Linked DNA regions of Homo sapiens. The protein of the gene in region 1 purifies or fractionates together with the protein of each later gene. This does not show direct contact. Each region holds a gene or a part of one and is shown in the gene's direction. Other genes may lie near its edges.

The links. Proteins that work in one complex are often made in the same cells at the same time.
Region 2: the proteins of DPYD (region 1) and RPE fractionate together in Homo sapiens (co-fractionation; one large-scale study listed by BioGRID). This does not show direct contact.
Region 3: the proteins of DPYD (region 1) and MICALL2 fractionate together in Homo sapiens (co-fractionation; one large-scale study listed by BioGRID). This does not show direct contact.
Region 4: the proteins of DPYD (region 1) and NLN fractionate together in Homo sapiens (co-fractionation; one large-scale study listed by BioGRID). This does not show direct contact.

Annotation. Positions count from the first base shown.
Region 1 is NC_000001.11:97,591,771-97,596,604, reverse strand, and holds part of DPYD (dihydropyrimidine dehydrogenase [NADP(+)]), read left to right. Parts: intron 1-1,438; coding exon 1,439-1,546; intron 1,547-3,217; coding exon 3,218-3,387; intron 3,388-4,834.
Region 2 is NC_000002.12:210,008,663-210,013,496, forward strand, and holds part of RPE (ribulose-phosphate 3-epimerase), read left to right. Parts: intron 1-994; coding exon 995-1,074; intron 1,075-4,834. UniProt on the Homo sapiens protein: Catalyzes the reversible epimerization of D-ribulose 5-phosphate to D-xylulose 5-phosphate.
Region 3 is NC_000007.14:1,455,812-1,461,406, reverse strand, and holds the start of MICALL2 (MICAL-like protein 2), read left to right. Parts: upstream 1-1,936; 5' UTR 1,937-2,080; coding exon 2,081-2,223; intron 2,224-5,595. UniProt on the Homo sapiens protein: Effector of small Rab GTPases which is involved in junctional complexes assembly through the regulation of cell adhesion molecules transport to the plasma membrane and actin cytoskeleton reorganization.
Region 4 is NC_000005.10:65,826,019-65,830,642, forward strand, and holds the end of NLN (neurolysin, mitochondrial), read left to right. Parts: 3' UTR 1-3,265; downstream 3,266-4,624. UniProt on the Homo sapiens protein: Hydrolyzes oligopeptides such as neurotensin, bradykinin and dynorphin A. Acts as a regulator of cannabinoid signaling pathway by mediating degradation of hemopressin, an antagonist peptide of the cannabinoid receptor CNR1.

The DNA of each region.
Region 1 (4,834 bases):
ACTCCTGCCTCTCTAGAATGACCCATTGGTAGAATGAGTCTTAGTAATAAAATAAAACTACATGTTTTCCCCTGCATTTATGGAATTGAGATGAATTATTTCTCTACTTGCCTTGGATGGGGTGACTGCTATAAGATTTTCTTCATTTACACTTTGGAAAAAATTTAGTCTGCCATTTATTTTCCTTTCAAAGTTTTGGTAAGAATTTACTAATTTATAGTTGATATATGTACAATGTAGAAAATTTGGAAAATAAGGAAATAATAAAAATTGGAATATCCTTAATACCACCACTCTAAATGATCTCTGTTTAGATTACATGGTTTATATTAATACATTTTTTTACAAAATTTGAATTATACTATACAGAGTTTTGAATCCTGCAGGTTCATTTAAGACTGTATTTTGATTACAATCTTATACCATATTTCTCAAATATTCGTTCTGTTGTCTTTTTCTTTTATACGGTAAAACTAATTTCTTCATTTACCTGACATTCTGGTACTCTCTCATCTTATTTTCCTCTTTCTGTATTAATCATTTTTGTGCATTAAACCTTTATTTGCATGTGTCAGTATTTTCTTAAGATAGATTTAAGACTATTTTCTAGATATTGAACACCAATGTATATTTCCACTGAAAGAGTATGACAAGTTCCATGTCTACCCTTGGTGTATAGTTTAATTTTCTTAAATATTTTTCTTTTTATAGAGAAGTTACAATTTTATTCTTTTAATTTGCAGTTTAATGACTTAATGGAGTTAATATTTTTAGTGCTTATAGGTGATTTATATTTTTTCTTCTCCCAATTTTTATTATTCTTTATGTTTCCATTGAAAAGCTAATATGTTCCTTACTGATTTGGAGAATTTATACAGTAAAGACATTTAATTATTAAAACATCTTCTTGGTTAATAATTTTCGTTTTAATTCATTTATATTTTTTAAATTTAGCAGTGGTTGAATTATTGTGGCAAAATACATTGTTTTTTCCTTTAATTTTTTTCTTTCATTAAAAAAGAAATGATTTTACTTATTCAGGAATTAGATAAATATGTACCCATTTTTAACTTTTTTTATATTTAGTACTTTAATGTAGCTGAAACTGACTTATTTATGATATGAGGCAAGAATATAACCTGATTTTCCCTGTAATGTTATATATGTTTATGTGTGTATATACATATGTTTCCATATATTTATAGGTATACATTAATGTGTGATTTACGATGTGTACTTGGTTATATATTAAAGATATACATAATATACTCTGAGATCCGTTAGACTGTATTATGTACATTTTATATTGATTTGCTTACAGATGTTTTCCTCTAAGAATGACATTATTTCAAAGATTAAAGTTTTCTTTTTTGTTTTAATATCTAATAGGAAAAGCCCCTCCTCCTGCTAATGATATTTTATAAATTTGATTACTTAGGTTTGCCAGAACCCAATAAAGATGCCATCTTCCAAGGCCTGACGCAGGACCAGGGGTTTTATACATCCAAAGACTTTTTGCCACTTGTAGCCAAAGGCAGTAAAGCAGGTATAACATATTGTCTTTTATGCTTAATAGTGAGTATGCTATTTTATTTATGATAAATTAATATCAAAATCAAGCTCAGCAGCACATTGTTCAGCTCTCACACCCAACCTTGCCTAAGACCCAAATGTAAAATTAAAAAAAAAAAGGCCGGGTATAACAGTTTGCCAGAATCATCTGTTTGTTCATTCTTCCAATAAAGTATCATCGTAAGGAATTTTCACTGTAATATATATGTCTAAACTACATCATGAAAAATTGCTTCAAGGTAAGCAAGTCCTTAACAAACATTGGAAGATGTTTTTCAAAGAAATGGCATGAATCGTCACATATCTTATATGATTTGTATCTACACAGGCAGAAAGATTGACTGTCTTCTCTTAAACAGTAATTTTATGATGTTAAAATAAAATACTTTGATAGACACCCTATCACTTTATACACCCCAAGAAGAACCACCTGAATGAAGGTTGTACCTTGGTTTGGCCTGACCAGAGTCATTGTCTTTGGGGAAAATTGTAATATTTTATCCAAAGTCAGATAATCTAAATCCTTCAAATGTATATTTTTAAAGAGGTCTGAGCCACAGCTATTCCTACATTAATTACATGTAGAAATGATACAAACTTTTATGCTTCTCCCAGGACTTAAAACAGTAAGAAACTTTCTATATTAAATTATTCTTCAGAAGTTTACAGCTAAAGATGCATACCCTCTCCACCTTCTGCCTCTCAGTAGAACTGGATGTTTGTATGTCTGAAACCCTTTCTGAGGAAGGTCATAGTGCACCTAGCTTGTATTTGAAAATTACAGAGTGTCCCAAATACAAAATCTTCCAAGCAAAATGATTACACTTATTGAAATTATAGGTTTATTCTATTCTTGGTACCATTTAAAAAATTATAGTAATTGATCTTATAAACAGTTTTATTTAATCTTATTATACACTGCTACCTAACACATAAGGAATACTTGCATTTTACTTTTTTTACAAGGATCTTCATATGGACAGCAAATCTTAATAGAGATGACCTTGAGAAATGGATGCTTAGAAAGTCATATTTCTTTTACTGCCCAGTTTCACAAACAAAACCAGAGGAAAGCAGTGAAAGGGAGAAAGATTTATTTGAACTATTTCAAGAAAATAGTTCTCAGAAATTCTTCAGTTACATAAAGGACACTTATTCAGCACGTTAATATTCAAAGTTAACAAAATATATAACAGAGGTATGTGTTAGAAATTATATAAGGTAATACATAAAAAAGTATTATAATGAAATATTGCAAACCGTTAACACAGATCATAAGGATCACTTTTTTCTTCTAGCAAAAGGAAAATTATGCTGAGTTAAAGATAGATAGCACAATTTTGATGAAGAGAGTTTTAATTGATTGATTCCAGTCTGTTATGACCTAAACTTCTCAAAATGTGTTGTAGGAATCCTAGAAGAAAAAAGAAACTAAAGATACTGACTATGAAATTACATATATGAGCATATTTTTAAAATGGGAATAAAACTGTCTTTCAATGAAGCAGAATAATTTGATAGTGACACTTCATCCTGGAAAACTGCAAGATGCAATTTTACACTGCTTTGAGTACAAGTATCTTTTGAGCTGTCATGCAGAAATGGTTTCTCTACTTGAAAATGGGGTTTTCCTTTCATCATTCAGGAATGTGCGCCTGTCACTCTCCATTGCCATCGATACGGGGAGTCGTGATTGTACTTGGAGCTGGAGACACTGCCTTTGACTGTGCAACATCTGCTCTACGTTGTGGAGCTCGCCGTGTGTTCATCGTCTTCAGAAAAGGCTTTGTTAATATAAGAGCTGTCCCTGAGGAGGTAAAATGGAACCATCAGAAAATATGGAGTTGTACTCCAACAGATTTTAGGAGATGAAACTGTTAATGTTTAAATCGCTAGAATGTTGAAATTGTCAAATTCAAGTTTAAAAATTTCAGGGCTACACATAATTGTTTCTTTTCTAATTCAGACATTCCAAGTAAAAGAAAATTTGTAATACTGATTTGGGTAAAATGAGAAATTTAATCTTTGTCAATACTCAAGGGCTTCTTGTTAGTGTTAATATGCTTGAAATGTATTCTATGTAACTAGTAACAATGTAAAGTGCTAAGTCTTCCATATCCTGAATAGTAGGTACTCTTCACAAAATGTATGCATATTAGAAGAATGTGGTAATAAGACACATACGGAATTTTCCGTAAGCCAATTTACAGACTGCATTCTAAGATGTATACCTTGGTCATACTTTCAGTCAGTTCATTATTTGTGAAGCAAATAGAAAGAAAAGGGTGTCATGTATATTTTTAAAGTGCTCTAATATAAGCACTACTCAAAATTAGTAGTTAGTTAGCATACTAAAAATAACGTTTGGCTGTGCGCGGTGGCTCACGCCTGTAATCCCAGCACTTTGGGAGGCTGAGGCCGGCGGATCACAAGGTCAGGAGATCAAGACCATCCTGACTAACACGGTGAAACCCCGTCTCTACTAAAAATACAAAAAAATTAGCCGGGCGTGGTGGTGGGCGCCTGTAATCCCAGCTACTCAGGAGGCTGAGGCAGGAGAATGGCGTGAACCCGGGAGGCGGAGCTTGCAGTGAGCCCAGATCGTGCCACTGCACTCCAGCCTGGGTGACAGAGAGAGACTCTGTCTCAAAAAAATAGTAATAATAACATGTTTAAAATCATTTCATTCTTACCAGTGACTGGTGAGTAGTCTTGGGTGAGGTATCGGCTATTTACATGTACTACACACTTCTCAAATTTTAATGCTATTAGAGAAATATAATACCTTATAAAGAATATTAGTTCTGAGAACAAGAACCAAATGTATTTATAGAAAGATAAATTACTCATTTAAATCAAATCAGTATTATGAACTTGACTTGCTTCGGAATGCCTGAATGTGTTTGGAGTCTCTATACTAGGCAAGAATTATAGCTGTAGTCAATAGGTAATTTGTCATATGTAGATTACCCACATTACAAATTAATCTTACCAAAATATCAGGGTCACCATTGGTTCATGGCTGAGTTTCAAATTCCACGTTTATTATCTGGACTTTTCTCCATCCAATCTACCCTTTTTAGACTTTTTTATAAAATCCAAGGTAGTTTTTATGATCATAGGTTTCTTTTTTTTTTTTCCTGGGATACAGTCTTAGGCAATAATTAGTGTAATCATGGTTTTTTTTTACACATAGAAAGAAACATTTTGATCTTTGTATTCCTGTGCATAGCACAGGACCTGGCACATAGTTTGTACTTGA
Region 2 (4,834 bases), on another chromosome or scaffold:
AGTACCGTGGGTCTGGTAGACTTGATTTGTTTTTGTTTTTGTTTTCGTTTTTGAGGTAAGTCTCGCTTTGTCGCCCAGGCTGGAATACAGTGGCACGATCTTGGCTCACTGCACCCTCCACCTCCCAGATTCAAACGATTCTCCTGCCTCAGCCTGCCTAGAAGCTGGGATTACAGGTGCATGCCACCACTCCCAGCTAATTTTTGTATTTTTAGTAGAGACAGGGTTTCACTATGTTGGCCAGGCTGGTCTTGAACTCCTGACCTCAAGTGATCTGCCCGCCTCAGCCTCCCAAAGTATTGGGGTTACAGGCGTGAGCCACTGTGCCTGGCTGGTAGACTTAATTTGAATCCACTTCCACAAATTATTAACTGAGTTACTTAAGGATTTTATTTATCTTGTGCTCTTCAAAGGGGATAATAATAGCATCTACTTTGTAAGGCTGTCGTGAAGATGAAATGAAGTAAATTACGATGCTTGGCATGTAGTAAACCCTCGGTGAAAGGTGGTCGTTACTAATAAACACATCATGTTTCTTTATTAGTCATCTTTAAGAAAGTTTAAAGAAACTGTCATTTAGTGCCTTGTGATAGAAGTGATTAGAAGTAGCCACAGGCCTCCTGAGATAGACTAGGATTCAGGAGATCAATATTAGAGTCCAGAACTTACTAACTAGTGTGTGACTTGGGCAAGTCATAAAGCCTGAGGGTTTCTGATTTTATCATCTCTCCATTTCTACTTGTCATGGGTCGTGAATTACGGAGTCAAATCATTATGAAAATATATGTGACGTGATTTGTTGAAATGTCAAGGAGACATTGCCTAGTAAAACCAAAATGACCCATTATTTTTAGTATTATTTAATACTGATGATTAAGTATTAAATTGAAAAACATTGCAGACAATCCCCTCAACCTGTGTCAGAATTCATATTGAGAGAGATACAGAAACTGAATTGAAAACATTTTCAGAGTAGATTTTGTTTGTCTTGTAGGCATTTTGTTCCCAACATCACCTTTGGTCACCCTGTGGTAGAAAGCCTTCGAAAGCAGCTAGGCCAGGACCCTTTCTTTGGTAAGTGGGTGTTACGCCATCTGAAGCTGGATGTGTTGCTCAAGTAAAGGAAAACTGGATGGTTGATTTTAACTTCCAAGTTCATCTGGCACCCTTTCCCCAACTTTCCTATCCTGGGTCTTCATTGGCCTGACTCCAGTAACAAGCCAAACTTCTTCCTGCCTCTGGGCCTTGGCTAATCTGCATGGAAAGGTAGTAGCTTGGCTGGCTGCCTCATCTTTGGGCCTCAAGTCATTTGTCATTTCCTCAGAGAGGCCTTTTTGAGCGTCCTCTCCCAAATTAACCTTTATCCAATTATCTTATCACCTGTTGATTTTCCTCTGAGAACTTCCTTTGATCTGCGATTACTTTTATTAGACTATAAACTCTCTGAGGGCGGGGATTGAATCCAGTTTGTTTACTGTGGTTTTCCTAAAGCTAAGCATAGACATGATCAGGGCTCAGTGTAATTGTTAAGTGAATTTATGAATCAGTTGATTTATGGTCCAGAAGCCATTTATTTTGTGCAAATTGGAGCTTTCTACAAGTGGTGCCTAAATATTCACTCCAATGTCCTAGTACAATGTAAATTAAGATTTTTAAGATTACTTAGTGGCCTACAAGTGATTTATGTTAAGTTAGCAATGTCTCACCTGCCAGATCTCTTAAACATGAGAAATTTTACACATTTTTATAAATAGTGTTATTTATTTTTTTCTTTTTTTTAAAATAGAGACTGAGTTTCGCCATGTTTCCCGGGCTAGTCTCAAACTCCTGGGCTCAAGCAATCCACCTGCCTTGGCCTCCCAAAGTGCTAGGATTACAGGCTTGAGCCACCAGCCTAGCCATAAATAGTTTTTTTAACGTAGCTTACAATTTAGTAGAACTTAGATTCTTTTTAATCAGCATATTGCTGACCAGTTTTATGAAGGACTCTGTGCTGTTCACTATGGTAGTCATAAGCCACATGTAGCTATTAAAATTAAATAAACTTAAGTTCATGACCAGAATGGCCAACATGGTGAAACCCTGTCTCTACTAAAAATTCAAAAATTAATCAGGCGTGGTGGCAAACACCTATAATCCCAGCTACTCAGGAGGCTGAGGCATGAGAATCACTTGAACCTGGGAGGTGGAGATTGTAGTGAGCTGAGGTCATTCCACTGCACTCCAGCCTGAGTGACAGTGTGACACTCCATGTCAAAAAAAAAAAATTTTTTTTAAATTAAATAACATAAACTTAAAAATTCGGTTTCTTATTCACGTTAATCACATTGCAAGTCTTCAGTAGTCACATATTGTACAGTGCAGCTATGGGACATTTCCAATATCACAGAAAATTCTGTTGAATATAGTCTCCAGCCTCTGTGTAGGATCTATCTACTTTGAGTTCACCAAAGAAAATGTACATTATTACCTCATTTATGTGGCATGAGGAAACAATGTTCCACCAATATATTCACCATTTTGAAATTTCCATATAATGGGATATAGTCCTCTGATTATCTAAACTTTCTTTTAAGCCATGATTAGCTTATATAGCAGATACCGTGACTTTTCCTATGAATTACGGTTGTTCTCATGACCATGAGAGGTAGATGAAATAAATAGCATTGTTTTCTCCCACTGTACAACCAATGGCCAGAATCCTCGCTTCTGGCTTGCTTGTGTGAATTTTTTTAATGCTTGCTTTTTTTCCCCTTTTCGCTCCCTTTTATTTGGGCTCCCATTGTCACACCATACTATTGTCTATATCCCTTCCTGTCAGTGCCTTTCCTTTTAGCAATCCTGTGTTGCTGCCACCACACACAATCTGCTTTTTCTTCTTGTTTTTAATTTGTTGATAAACTTGCTAATTAATCTTTCTAGAATTTGGTCTAAAAGATAAATGAACTCCATTCACTTTAATGTTTGGGTTTTGTGACCCTTGTTTTTTGGTTTTTCGCTTTTTGTTGTTGTTGTTGTTGTTGCTTTAAGAGACAGACTCCGTCTATTACCCAGGCAAGAGTACAGTGGTACAGTCATAGCTCACTGCATCCTTGAACTCCTGGGCTCAAGCAATCCTCCCGCCACAGCTATAGCTAAGACTACAGGTGTGTGCCACCACAACCGGCTATTTTTTTTTTTTTTTTTTTTTTTTACTTTTTGTAGAGATGGGATCTCCCTGTATTGCCCAGGCTAATCTTGAATGCTTGGGCTCAAGCCATCCTCCTGCCTTGGCTTCCCAAAGTGTTGTGATAGTAGGTGTAAGTCACTGAGCCCGACTACCTTTGTTTTTTATATTGAGAAACATTTGTTTAATTCTTGGATTTTGGTTGTTGGATAATTGATACATGAATGTATTCTAGGACCTAGATTACATGTTGTGTTGTATATGTAACGCTAACATTCTTAACTGTTCAGTTTTCATATTGAGTAGAAATAAATGTCTAAGAAATACAGTGATGGGAAAAGTCTGTTCCTGTTATTGTCTAAATCAGTGATCCTCAAGTATGTTGTATAAGGACCCACACAAATCCTTAAGACCCTTTCGGGTCATCCATGAGAGTATATCAAAACTATTTTCATAATCCTAAGAAATTATTTGCCATTATTTCTACTGATGGTACAAAAACATTGATGAGTTAGTTTGCTGGTGCCTTAACCAACTCAAGGCAGGGACTGTATCAGGAGTTATTCTTCATCATCATGCATTTGCAATAAATATCCTTGATGAAGCAGTAGAAATTAATAAATCTTGGTCCCTGAATACATGCCTTTTTAATATTTTGTGTGGCAAAGTAGGAAGTGCATATAAAGTGCTTGTGCTGCATTGCTGCATACTGGAACATAATGGTTTTCTCAAGGAAAACCACTTGCACCATAGAGGTGTGATCTGAACTAGCTGCTTTCCTCCAGAACACTATGTTTGTTTGAAAGAACAACTGACAGATCAACTATGGTTTTTCAGACCTGGCTATTTTAATGACATTTAAAAAATATTAACTAAATGAGGCTGTCTCTTCAAGGAAAGATACCTTGTCAGTTTTTGTTCCCAAAATTAGAATTTTAAAAAACTTGTGTATCTTACCACTCTGGGTTTGATAGCGTCCCAACAGTTAACAAGCTTTTCTGATGAGATCTGTAGTTATTTTACCAAATGTGATTTTGGGGTACTATGGAATGAAATCTGTCACTATTTGTAAGATGTGTGTAACTCAGTAAATCAGTACTTAAAAGACCCATTCAAAATACAAGACAAACAATGGGTTTTAATGTAACAAAGAATGAAAAGCTCATTGATAGGGTTTACAGAGTGCACACTGCAGCTAACCTTTATAAAATTACCACCCAGCACATTTAAGATAGGCTAGGCTAAGCTATGATGTTTGGTGTGTTAGGTATATTAAATGCAGTTAGAGATAACAGTATTTTCAATTTAGATTGAGTTAATTGGGATGTAACCCCATTGTAAGTTACAGAACATCTGTATTACAACAGATTAGATACAGAACAGATGTGAGAATATAGGTGTCTTCTGTTAAGCCAGACACTGAAAACTTGCAAAAATGTAAAACAAATAATACCACTCTTAATTAATAGGTAATAGAGTTATCCTTTTTTTTTTTTTTTTTGAGACAGTCTTGCTCTGTCACCCAGGCTAGAGTGCAGTGGTGGCCTTCATACCTCACTGAAGCCTCAGTCTTGATGGGCTCCAGCAGTCCTCCCACCTCACCTCTCCCCTCCAGTAGCTGGGACTGCAGGGGCACACTACCATGCCTAGCTAATTATTCTGTTGTTG
Region 3 (5,595 bases), on another chromosome or scaffold:
AGCCGTGGGCAGTGGGGAGAAAGGACCATTTGTTTGGGGGTGTCCTGGCTCCTGGCTTCGGGGACCCTGGAGGGACATGGTGTGTGAGGTGCTGGTGGGCAAACGTCACAAATGCTGCCTCCCAGCTCACTGGTGCCAGAGGGGGGCCGCGCAGGATGGGCCACGGGGTGACCAGTGAGATGGCTTTTTAAGTGTGCAGTGGTAAAAGTTCACGATAAAAGTGAAACCCAGGCCACCTCCCACACCACTCCTTTTAAGGGAGCTGGGCCCTAACGCCTGTCCACCCCTGTGTCCCCCATCCCCCACTAATTCCCCCCGCCCACTGCCCCGCTGCTTCTGCTTCTTGATCTCTCCCTTCTTTTCCAGCTCTTCCGGTTCTCCTAACCGTTGCCCTGGGAGTCAAGAAAACCCGGTGCCAGGACCGGCTCCGGCTGTGCTGGCACGATATCCCCTGACATCCGCAGGTCAGGGACTGTGGCGGAGCAGCGGTTAGGGCCAGCCACATTCCCAGGCCACAAGGGCTCCCTGCCTAGCAGCTGCTTGCATGCCCCTGGTGACGGGGAGCTCACCACCTACACACAGGCCTCACTGACACTTAGGCAGCTGGCCATGAACACTACGGTGTCTCACCAGGGACCAGCCTCAGAAAAGATCTGGAACAGCACCATTGGCTGGGGTTGGAAGACCTCAGTTTCTCCTCCTCCCAAGGGGCACAGAGAAGCTGCCCTGACTCCCTGCCAGGGGCTACTGCGGGAAAACACCTTCCTTCCTGCAGGCCCTGCCCAGACAAGCCCTGGCCCCACAGCCAGGAGGGTAGGCCCCCCTCACATGGCTGGTGTCAGTGATTCCGCCCTCGTCCAGCCCCCGTGGCCACAGACAAGGTTCCCCAAGGATAACGGGGCCAGGGGCCAGTCTGGGATAATTTAGGGCCCCAGCAGAGGGACTTTCCTTATTTCTTCTGTCACAGCTCAAAGTGGAAAATTGGAACTACCCTGCAAGTCAGCCTGAGGAATCTCCTGCCCCAGGAACAGATCCTGCCCACAGGCCCCCAGAAGAAAAGCACAGGCCAGCTGTGCAACTCCGGCTCCACGGCCCCCTTCCTGGCCTCAGTTTCTCCTCTGGCAATGCCCAGGCCTCACCTCTGCCTTGCCTGGAACCCCCGCTGGCATGTAGCGGCCTGGAAAGAGAAACCAGATGCGGACGTCCTTTGAAACCCTGAAACACAAGGCGCCTCCTGCTCCCCGGGAGGCCGGGCTGCCGAGGGCTGAGGCCCTAGACAGGGCAGGGTGTTCGAGCCTCAGTGTCCCCGTTTGTCAACGGCCTTTCCTGCCTCTTCTCCATGGCGGTGGGGTGAGATGGTGGTGGGAGGTGGGGCGGCGAAAAAGAAAATTCCAGGTCTCCGCAGGGGTCCAGAATGGCAGGACCCCCAAGCAGACCGCGCCCCTTCACCGGTTGGGGGTCTCGGCCCTCAGCGGCGGGGCGGGGCCTGGGGAGGGGCCAGGCGGCGTGGGGCGGGGCCTGTCGGGCGGGACCTGACAGCGTGGGGGCGGGACTTACCAGGAGGCGGGACGTGCCTAGGGCGCGAGCCCGTACTGGGGCCGGGCGGCGTGGGGCGGGGCCTCTCGGGAGGCAAAACCTGGAGGCTGGGGGCGGGGCCTGTCCGGAGTCGGGGCCTGCCTGGAGCGGGAGCCTGTGCCGGGGCCAGGAGGCGTGGGAACGGGGCCTATCAGGAGGCAGGACCCGGCGGCTGGGGGCGGGGCCTGTCGGGAGGTGGGGCCTGCCTGGGCGGGAGCCTATGCCGGGGCTGGGAGGTGTGAGGACGGGGCCTATCCGGAGGCAGGACTTGGCGGCTGGGGGCGGGGCCTACAAGGAGGCGGGGCCGGCGGGGGCGGGGCCGGGCTCGGCTTCTCTTAGGGACCCGGCACTCGTCGCCCTCAGTCCGGCTCAGCTGGGGCTGGGCGCCGTGGGTCTGGCGGTTCCGTAGCGGTCCCAGCGTCTGTCCCGCCGGCCGGGCGGTCGCGGCACAGCCGCGGGAAGGTGTCGGAGGGCGGTTCCGCCGCGCGGCGGGCGCGCCGCCCACATGGCGGCCATCAGGGCGCTGCAACAGTGGTGCCGGCAGCAGTGCGAGGGCTACCGCGACGTGAATATCTGCAACATGACCACGTCGTTCCGCGACGGCCTGGCTTTCTGCGCCATCCTGCACCGCCACCGGCCCGACCTCATGTAAGTCCTGCCTGGCGCCCTTTGATTCTTCTGCTGTTCGGCTGCGCGCTGACACGGGCGGGGAAACTGAGGCCCGGGCGGCTGGGGGATGGGGAGCCGAGGCGTGGGACTGGGCAGGCACAGCCCACCGTGCAGCCCCCCGAGGCTGTCCTCAGTGGCCTCAGTGTGCCCGGACACCGAATGCAGCTGGGCCAGAGCCATGGCATCCCCCGCCCGCCGGCTGAGTCAGACGTGACTCAGGGCGGCTCCTGGGCCCTGGCTTCAGTCCAGTCCCCCTCTGTGTCCCTGGGAAAGGCCAGCAGAGCTGCCTCTTTGGGCCCTCCGAGGCTCTCACTGCCCAGGGGCCTGGCCACCAGATGGGGTCCCTGGATAGCCCTCGTATGGGCACTGACCCTCCCCCAGCCTGTTCAGGCCCCTGGGGGGATGTGGCCAGGGCCACTGTGGGGGAGCGGCCAGTGCAGGGCAGGAAGCCCCCAGACCCCAGGTGCTGCTGCCAGCCGGGCCTCTGAGGCCCCGGGTGATAGGGCCCGAGATGGAGAACAGCCCCCATCTCTGGGAGCAGCAGGAGGTGGCAGGGGTTGAGGACTAGGCTGTCTCTCCCCAGGAGGGTCTTGGCGTGTGTAGCTGGGCAGCTGGCCCTGCCCGTTGCTGAATCTTGGCCCGAGCCTGGACCTGCTCCATTGTTTATTCACTCAGCAAACGCTCTTTGGCTAAATGACTGGGACCAGGCTTGCTGGGACAGAGATCTGTGTGTCGGGGCTGGGGGCCAGACGCTCAGGAAGGGGGGCCCTCAACGGCCACCTGCAGCCCAGGCACCTTCTGGGCAAAGCGTTCTCCTGAGTGTGTTTTTGGTGGGAAGGTCTCGGGGTTGGGAGGAGCCACAGGCAGCACCTGGGGCCTCTGTCAGGCCGCAGCTGTGCAGACCAGAGAACCGAGGCTAAGAGGAGGGGTCCTTGCTCAGGTCACACAGCCCCAGCCCGTTGCGCAGATCCGGGGCTCCTCCCCTGTGCCCCTGGACACTGTCCTGCCAGTCCCACTCTCTGCAGGAAGCTGGGGTCTTGAGCAACAGCCTCGGCCCCTGCTCTGAGGTTGTGACATGCATTCGTGGAGCCACCAGGGGCTTCCATTTGGCGTTTGGGCAGCAGCCGCTCTCCCTCGCCAGGAACGTGCCTCTGTTGCCCTTGCAGGCAGAAGATGCTGGGCACAAGGTGCGTGCTTCCACATGGAAAGCCTGACGCTGAGCTTTGAAGGAGAGGGCCAGGGACCTGGAGACTGGGAGAAGGACCCGGAATGGGGAGGAAGGCAGGCGAGACCCCACCCCCGGGGCTGCAGGGTCCTGGATGAGGCTGGCTGGTGGCTGAGCCCAGGCATCCAAGCTGGGGCCAGCCCGAAAAGCCTCTGGGGTGGGGAGAGGCGTTGCCACCGGCTGCTGGCCACCAGCTTCATGGATCACTGGTGTCGCCGGAGATTTGGGGCCCTCTGGTCCTGGGGAGCTTCTCTGTACTCCCTGCCGGCTCAGACGTGCCTGTGGGCAGTGCCCAGGGTGAGCACAGGTGCATGTGCATGCACTGGCACGGTGGTCGCTGTGTATCTCCTCAGTGCACTGACAGTTATTGAGTACCTGCTGTGTACCCAGCACTGAGTCCTGTGCCAGTTCCCCTCAGCCTCCAGATGCAGGGAGCAATGTTCCGGTCACAGAGACAGACAGGGAACAGGTAAATGAATAAAAGCCCAGGGTGGCTCCAGAGAGTGCAGAGGCCAGAACAGGAAGGAGGCGGGAGAGAGAGGAGGCCCTCTGCCCCCAGCTCCGGTGGGTGTGGAGTTACCCAAGCTGTGGCTGACTTGGTTCTGTCCCCACTGGACTGTCAGCTCCAGAGGGTGGGGGCTCTGTTTTGTTCACTGCTGCACCCCTGGTGCCTGGAACTGGGCTCGGTAGATACCAGCACATGGTTGGAGTTCTGCAGATAAGGGCCTTTCAGTTGGGGTTCAGTAGATATGGTAGGAGCTTAGTAGGTGCCCACGTGCAGAAGGACAGAGGAGAAGGCCATGTGCCCTTGGAGGCAGAGATCAGAGAGGTGCAGCCACAAGCCAAGGGTGTCCTGGGCTGGAAGAGGCAGGAAGGACCCTCCCCGAGAACCTCCTTAGGCAGCAAGGCCCAGCCCACACCTTGATGTCGGAGTCCGGCCTCCAGAGCCGTGAGAAAACAAATTCCTGGTGTTTTAAGCCCCAGAGTTTGTGGCAATTTGTTACGGCAGTAGGAAGAAGCTAGTACAGGCTTCCATGGGTGTTGGGGCGTGGGGGCCTCTGTAGACCCTGGCTGATGGAAAACCCGGAGTGTCATGGGGGTCGGGTGTGCACCAGGGTGTGGGGACATGCGCTTGTATGGGTGCCTGGGCCCTTTGCTTTTATTCCAGAGTTGGAGTCTCGCTCTGTCGCCCAGGCTGGAGTGCAGTGGCACCGTCTTAGCTCACTGCATTCTTGAACACCTGGACTCAAGCAATCCTCCCACCTCAACCTCCCGAGTAGCTGGGACCATGCCTGGCTAATTTTCTTATTTTTAATTTAATTTTATCTATTTATTTATTTATTTATTTATTTGAGACAGAGTCTAGCTCTGTCGCCCAGGCTGGAGTGCAGTGGTGCGATCTCAGCTCACTGCAACCTCCGCCTCCCAGGTTCAAGTGATCCTCCTGCCTCAGCCTCCCAAGTAGCTGGGGTTAAAGGGGTGCACCCCCACACCCAGCCGATTTTCATATTTTTTCTAGAGACGGGGTTTTGCCATGTTGGCCAGGCTGGTGTGTAACTCCTGACCTCAAGTGATCCATCTGCCCTCTTCAGCCTCCCAAAGTTCTGGGGTTATGGGCGCGAGCCACTGCGTCTGGCCTGTGTCTGGCTACTTTCACTCAGCATATTGTTTCTTTTTTAAATTGAGATGGGTTCTGGCTATATTGCCCAGGCTGGTCTTGAACTCCTGGCCTCAAGTAATCCTCCTGCCTCAGCCTCCCGAAGCGCTGGGATTACAGATGTGAGCCGCCGCGCCTGGCCCCTGGCTCTTTGGACGTGCCTGCCTCTGTGCCTTCATCACCCCCATCCCGTGCCCTCAGCCTCTGCTCCCTGCCGTACCTCTGGATGAGGTGGTGGCTGGGGTGGAGGTCTCCTCATGCAGCCCTTGGCTGTCCCTCCTGTCCCCAGTAGTCTTCAGGAAGGGAGGAAACGCGTGTGAGGGACAGGCACAGACCGGTTGTCCTCTCAGGGCAGCTCTGAGGTCAGACTCTGTGTGAGGCCCCGCCCTTGCCACCTCATTCCCCTCTCCTTCCAGTGAAGACCCCTTGACAGCAGAAGGGTGGACGTCCTGTCTCCCTGTCTGTAGCT
Region 4 (4,624 bases), on another chromosome or scaffold:
CTTACAGTTCTGGAAGCTGGGAAGTCCCACAATCCACATGCTGGTAAATTTGGTTCGTGGTGAGGCCCCTCTTCCTCTTTTACTGACCACATCCCCAAAAGTGTCAGGTAGACATGTTACAAATAGCTCTGTAGAGAGCCATGGGAAGAGACAGGAGGCAGATGTGGAACATAAAGGGTTTAGAAACTTCTGCAGGCAGCAGTGGCAGGGAGCAAGCCCTAGAGTGTCTCTTTTTACGAGAGCAGGAATCCCATCATGAGAGTTCCTTCCTCATGACTTTATCTAAACCCAGTCACCCCCAACAAAGGCCCCACCCCCTAACCCCATCACATTGGCTGTTACGGCTTCAATGTAGGGGATGGGGCACAAACATTCAGTCCATAACGAATACTGATTCCTCAAATAGGGTTTAAACATAGTTAACTGAGCCCCCAAAGAATGTTAAAAGAGAAAATCCATTTTATTTGAATAGATGCAGTGACCACAGCTTCTTCCCTCAAATCAACACATTACAGTTAGATGTCTCCCATCTGAAATTGGATAGCCCACTGAAATTGAACATGCCTTCTCTTATAAATGTGTGGTGAGAATAAAAGCAACAAAGAAATGAATGTGGTGGCTCACACCTGTAATCCTAACACTTTGGAAGGTTGAGGCAGGAGGATCCTTTGTGCTCAAGAGTTTGAGACCAGCCTGAGCAACACAGTGAGACCCTGTCTCTACAAAAACTAAAAAAATTAGCTAGGGATGGTGGCACATGCCTGTAGTCCCAGCTACTTGGGAGGCTGAGGTGGGAGGATTGCTTGAGCCCAAGAAGGTCAAGGCTGCCATGAGCCATAATCACGCCACTGCACTCCAGCCTGGGTGACAGAGACCCTGTCTTAAAATAAAATAAAAAAAAAAGGAAAAGGAAAGACATACATACCCTCAGTTCTTCGAAAAACAGTCAACGTCCAAAAAGTTTATTTTTTGAGTCACCTTTAATAGAGAAATTTCCCACTGGAAACAGATCCACCTAAGTGATTATCTAGTATCAGCTGTATCAAGGCAAAAGGTAAAGGTTATAAGATGTAAATATTAGACCAAAATAGCCTTTTTTAACAAACACAATAATGCTGTACGTCTGTAACAAAACAAAATTTGAAAAATTGAGGTAATGTACACAGCGATGCACACACCCCCACACCACACCGTGATTCCTGAGTTTTGATTTGGTTGAATTCACCTTGTAGTTCCCTTTCCTGAGAAAATACAGGTTCAACACATCTAGTCCACGATGTACGTACAAGGGGAAGGGGTGAACAGGAAATAGACTCCCTTATTCTGCTCACATGAGCTGGAACCTGTACTAGCTGCATATTTCATAGACCCCAGAGGCTCACCTCAATTGTACTCCTATGATAAAATGTCTCTAGCATTTGTCATGAGAGAAACTGGCTAGAAATAGTTTGTTCATTGCGTCCAGCAAGACACGCATTGCTGTTGATATCTTTGTGGCTAAGATGGAGAATGTGACTGGATAATAGTTATCCAGGTGGATTACTAGCTATTGAAACAGTCTGAGATAGTTGCATGATGATTAACGTTAAACTGGGAGTAATTTCAAGTCATTTGGCTAAAAATGAAAAAAAAGTCCCATAAAAAGGTATCAAATGTACAGATAATAGGGCTGGAATTATTAAGTATGATGATGTTATTAACATCTAAAATTATTTTGGCCGGGCAAGGTGGGTCACGCCTGTAATCTCAGCACTTTGGGATGCCAAGATGGGTGGATCACCTGAGTTCAGGAGTTCAAGACCAGCTTGGCCAACATGGCGAAACCCGTCTCTACTAAAGAATACAAAAATTAGCCAGGTGTTGTGGCACATGCCTGTACTCCCAGCTACTCAGGAGGCTGAGGCAGAAGAATCATTTGAACCCCGGAGGTGGAGGTTGCAGTGAGCCGACATTGTGCCGCTTCATTCCAGCCTGGGCAACAGAGTGAAACTCTTGTCTCAAAAGTAAAAAAATAATAATGTTTAAAAATATTTCAATGTGGAGACAAGCTCAAAATGAAATTAGACACATTCCATTACCCAGGTAAAAGAAGGGGAAGCCTGACTTGATAGTAGTATTCAGGAAAAAAGAGTTGGCAGTTTTATTTGGCCAAATTCCAATATCAGCTCATGGTACAGCACACCGGGGGAGGGGGACGGGAGGCGAGAACTAAGGCTTTTTAAGAATGTGTTGATGGAAGTATGTGCCTAGATCAAAAGAATAATCCCCCCGGACTCCAGTGTAAGATCAATTACTGTTGGAATATTGTGTTCCTTTCTAGATATCACATTTTAAGCAGACTTTGGCCAAGTAGTACAGTGTTTGCAGGAGCAGTAACAAGATGGTGATAACTTTGAAAATACTTCTCAAAAGAAAAATAAAAAAGAATTAGGGAAGTTCAGTCTGGAGATAATTCAGAAATACAGATGATAATTGTTTTCAAATTCTTGAAGGAAATGGGAGAGAGAATAGGCTAATTCTGTATTGCTTCAGAAACCAAATGGAAACAATTAAATTCCATTAGAGAAACGGTTGGAAAATATGAGGAGGATTTAGTTCAGTACGAGGAAGCTGTTTCTAATACTTTTTGTTGGTTAAAAATACATTCCGCTGCTGTGGAAAGCCTGTAGCTGCCAGGAGTGTTACAGAGGGCATTCCTCCCTTGAGTTGACATTTGTGCCAAACCGGCTTTTAGGGCTTCTCCAGCTTTTAAGATGCGATAATGATAAGATGATCATCGGGAAAACATCCCTCAGATGAAACGTTCACAGGCTGGCTCTGAAAACTGGCATTCAGATGATTGCGGCTCCCCCATACTGTAGGAATATTGTTTATGGCTTAAGGTTGCCTCGCTCCTCATCTGTAATCAGTGAAAGTTTATCCAGAGGTTAATTACCGGTTTTCTGGTGGGTATCTGGGAACTGAGGATGGGAGATTAACTGTTGTATATGACCATAGTAAAGCAAAAGACTGTTAGAGAATGAGTAAACGTTCGTTTTCCTCCCTACAGAATTTACAGTTACTCTCTGTCCATTCCACTCACTACTGTCTTCATCACACACACAGAGGCAAACGTCTGATTCAGATAGCCAGGTGTGCCATGCATGCACTCCACCATATTGTGATCTCTTCGAGGCTTGTTTCTGTCCCCTGTCCTCCACAGTCCTGGATTGTTAATGAATAGTTCATACATGTTTGTTAAATAAATATACCTTCTTTAAAATTATCTTTTGTTATAAAGATGCCTTTTTCTATGGTAACTGCAAAATACCTAATTTGTAACTAAACCTAAAACTATGTGGATAAGTTATTTCTACACCTGCGGGGGGCAGATTTCTACATGAGAGTCCTTTCTTAGTGTACTGAGAGTTTCTGCATGAGGTAAATGAAAGAAACATGTTTTTTGTAAAAAAAAAAAAAAAGAAAAGAAAAAAATTGGCAATGGAGAACGTTTCTAAAGCTTCTCAGCTTCTCCCTATGATTATGTATTGAAACCTCGGAATTTGTTCATCTGGTTTTCTTGGGGGGTCTATGAAAAGGGCAGAGCAAGCAGATGTCCCATGATTGCCCTGAAATTATATTAGATATGTTCGTGTGCATGGATACCTGCATTTTTCTAGGGATAGAGTCCTTAGCTTTAATCAGAAGAAATTAAGAACTACTGTCTTTAAAAATGTGCTTTCAAACATTTGTTTTTTGAATTCATTTCAAAGACTCTAACGTGCCCATTATGTGTCAGGCGCTGTGCTTGGCAATGAGGATACAAAAAGACACCCCAGAACTGGAGCTGCTCACAGTGGAGTGGAGAAGGCAAATGAGTTCATAATTTATTGGGATAAATTATAATAGAAAGGCATGTATCCAAAACTTTTCTGTGTTTTCCCCTCAACCCTGGTTGACTCCACTATACAATTTGACTGTGGTGCCACAAAATTTTACATAGTTACCACGCCACCTGCCACCGCAGGCTTCTATTTTTAACAAAATAATTGCTTTTCTCTTTTCAGCATTTCAGGAGTGGGACCAAATGGTGTTCTATATCTGGTATATCCAGGAGTTTCTTAGATCTGGTAGTTAAAGGGCTTATAAAAAAGAGATGAAAATGTTCACTTTGCCACTTTTGTGCAAGTGGTTATAAATTGACAGCCATTAGAAGAATGATGTGGGACCCCTTTTAAGCTGATATGTATTAGATAGCCAAGAGGCATTGGTACATCCTATAAGTCTAGAAAACAGGTTGTTAAAATAATCACTGAGTTGTTTAGAGATGGTCCAGATTAGTCAAGATTTCTTACTTCCTGTTCCCAGCAACTTTTTTTTTGAGATGAGATCTTCCCATGTTGCCCGGGCTGGTCTGGAATTATTGGGCTCAAGAGATTCTCCCACCTCAGCCTCCCAAAGTGCTGGGATTACTGGTGTGAGCCACTGTGCGCGGCCCCATCAGTGTTAATAATTTCCATTACCACCAGTAAGAGCCAAAAAAAGCACCCTAGCATTTCAACCTCTTACTGCCTATTTGTGACTTCTTTATGTAGGGATAGAAACTGACTAAACAGATCAATGGAAGACTAAAGAAGCCTCAGGG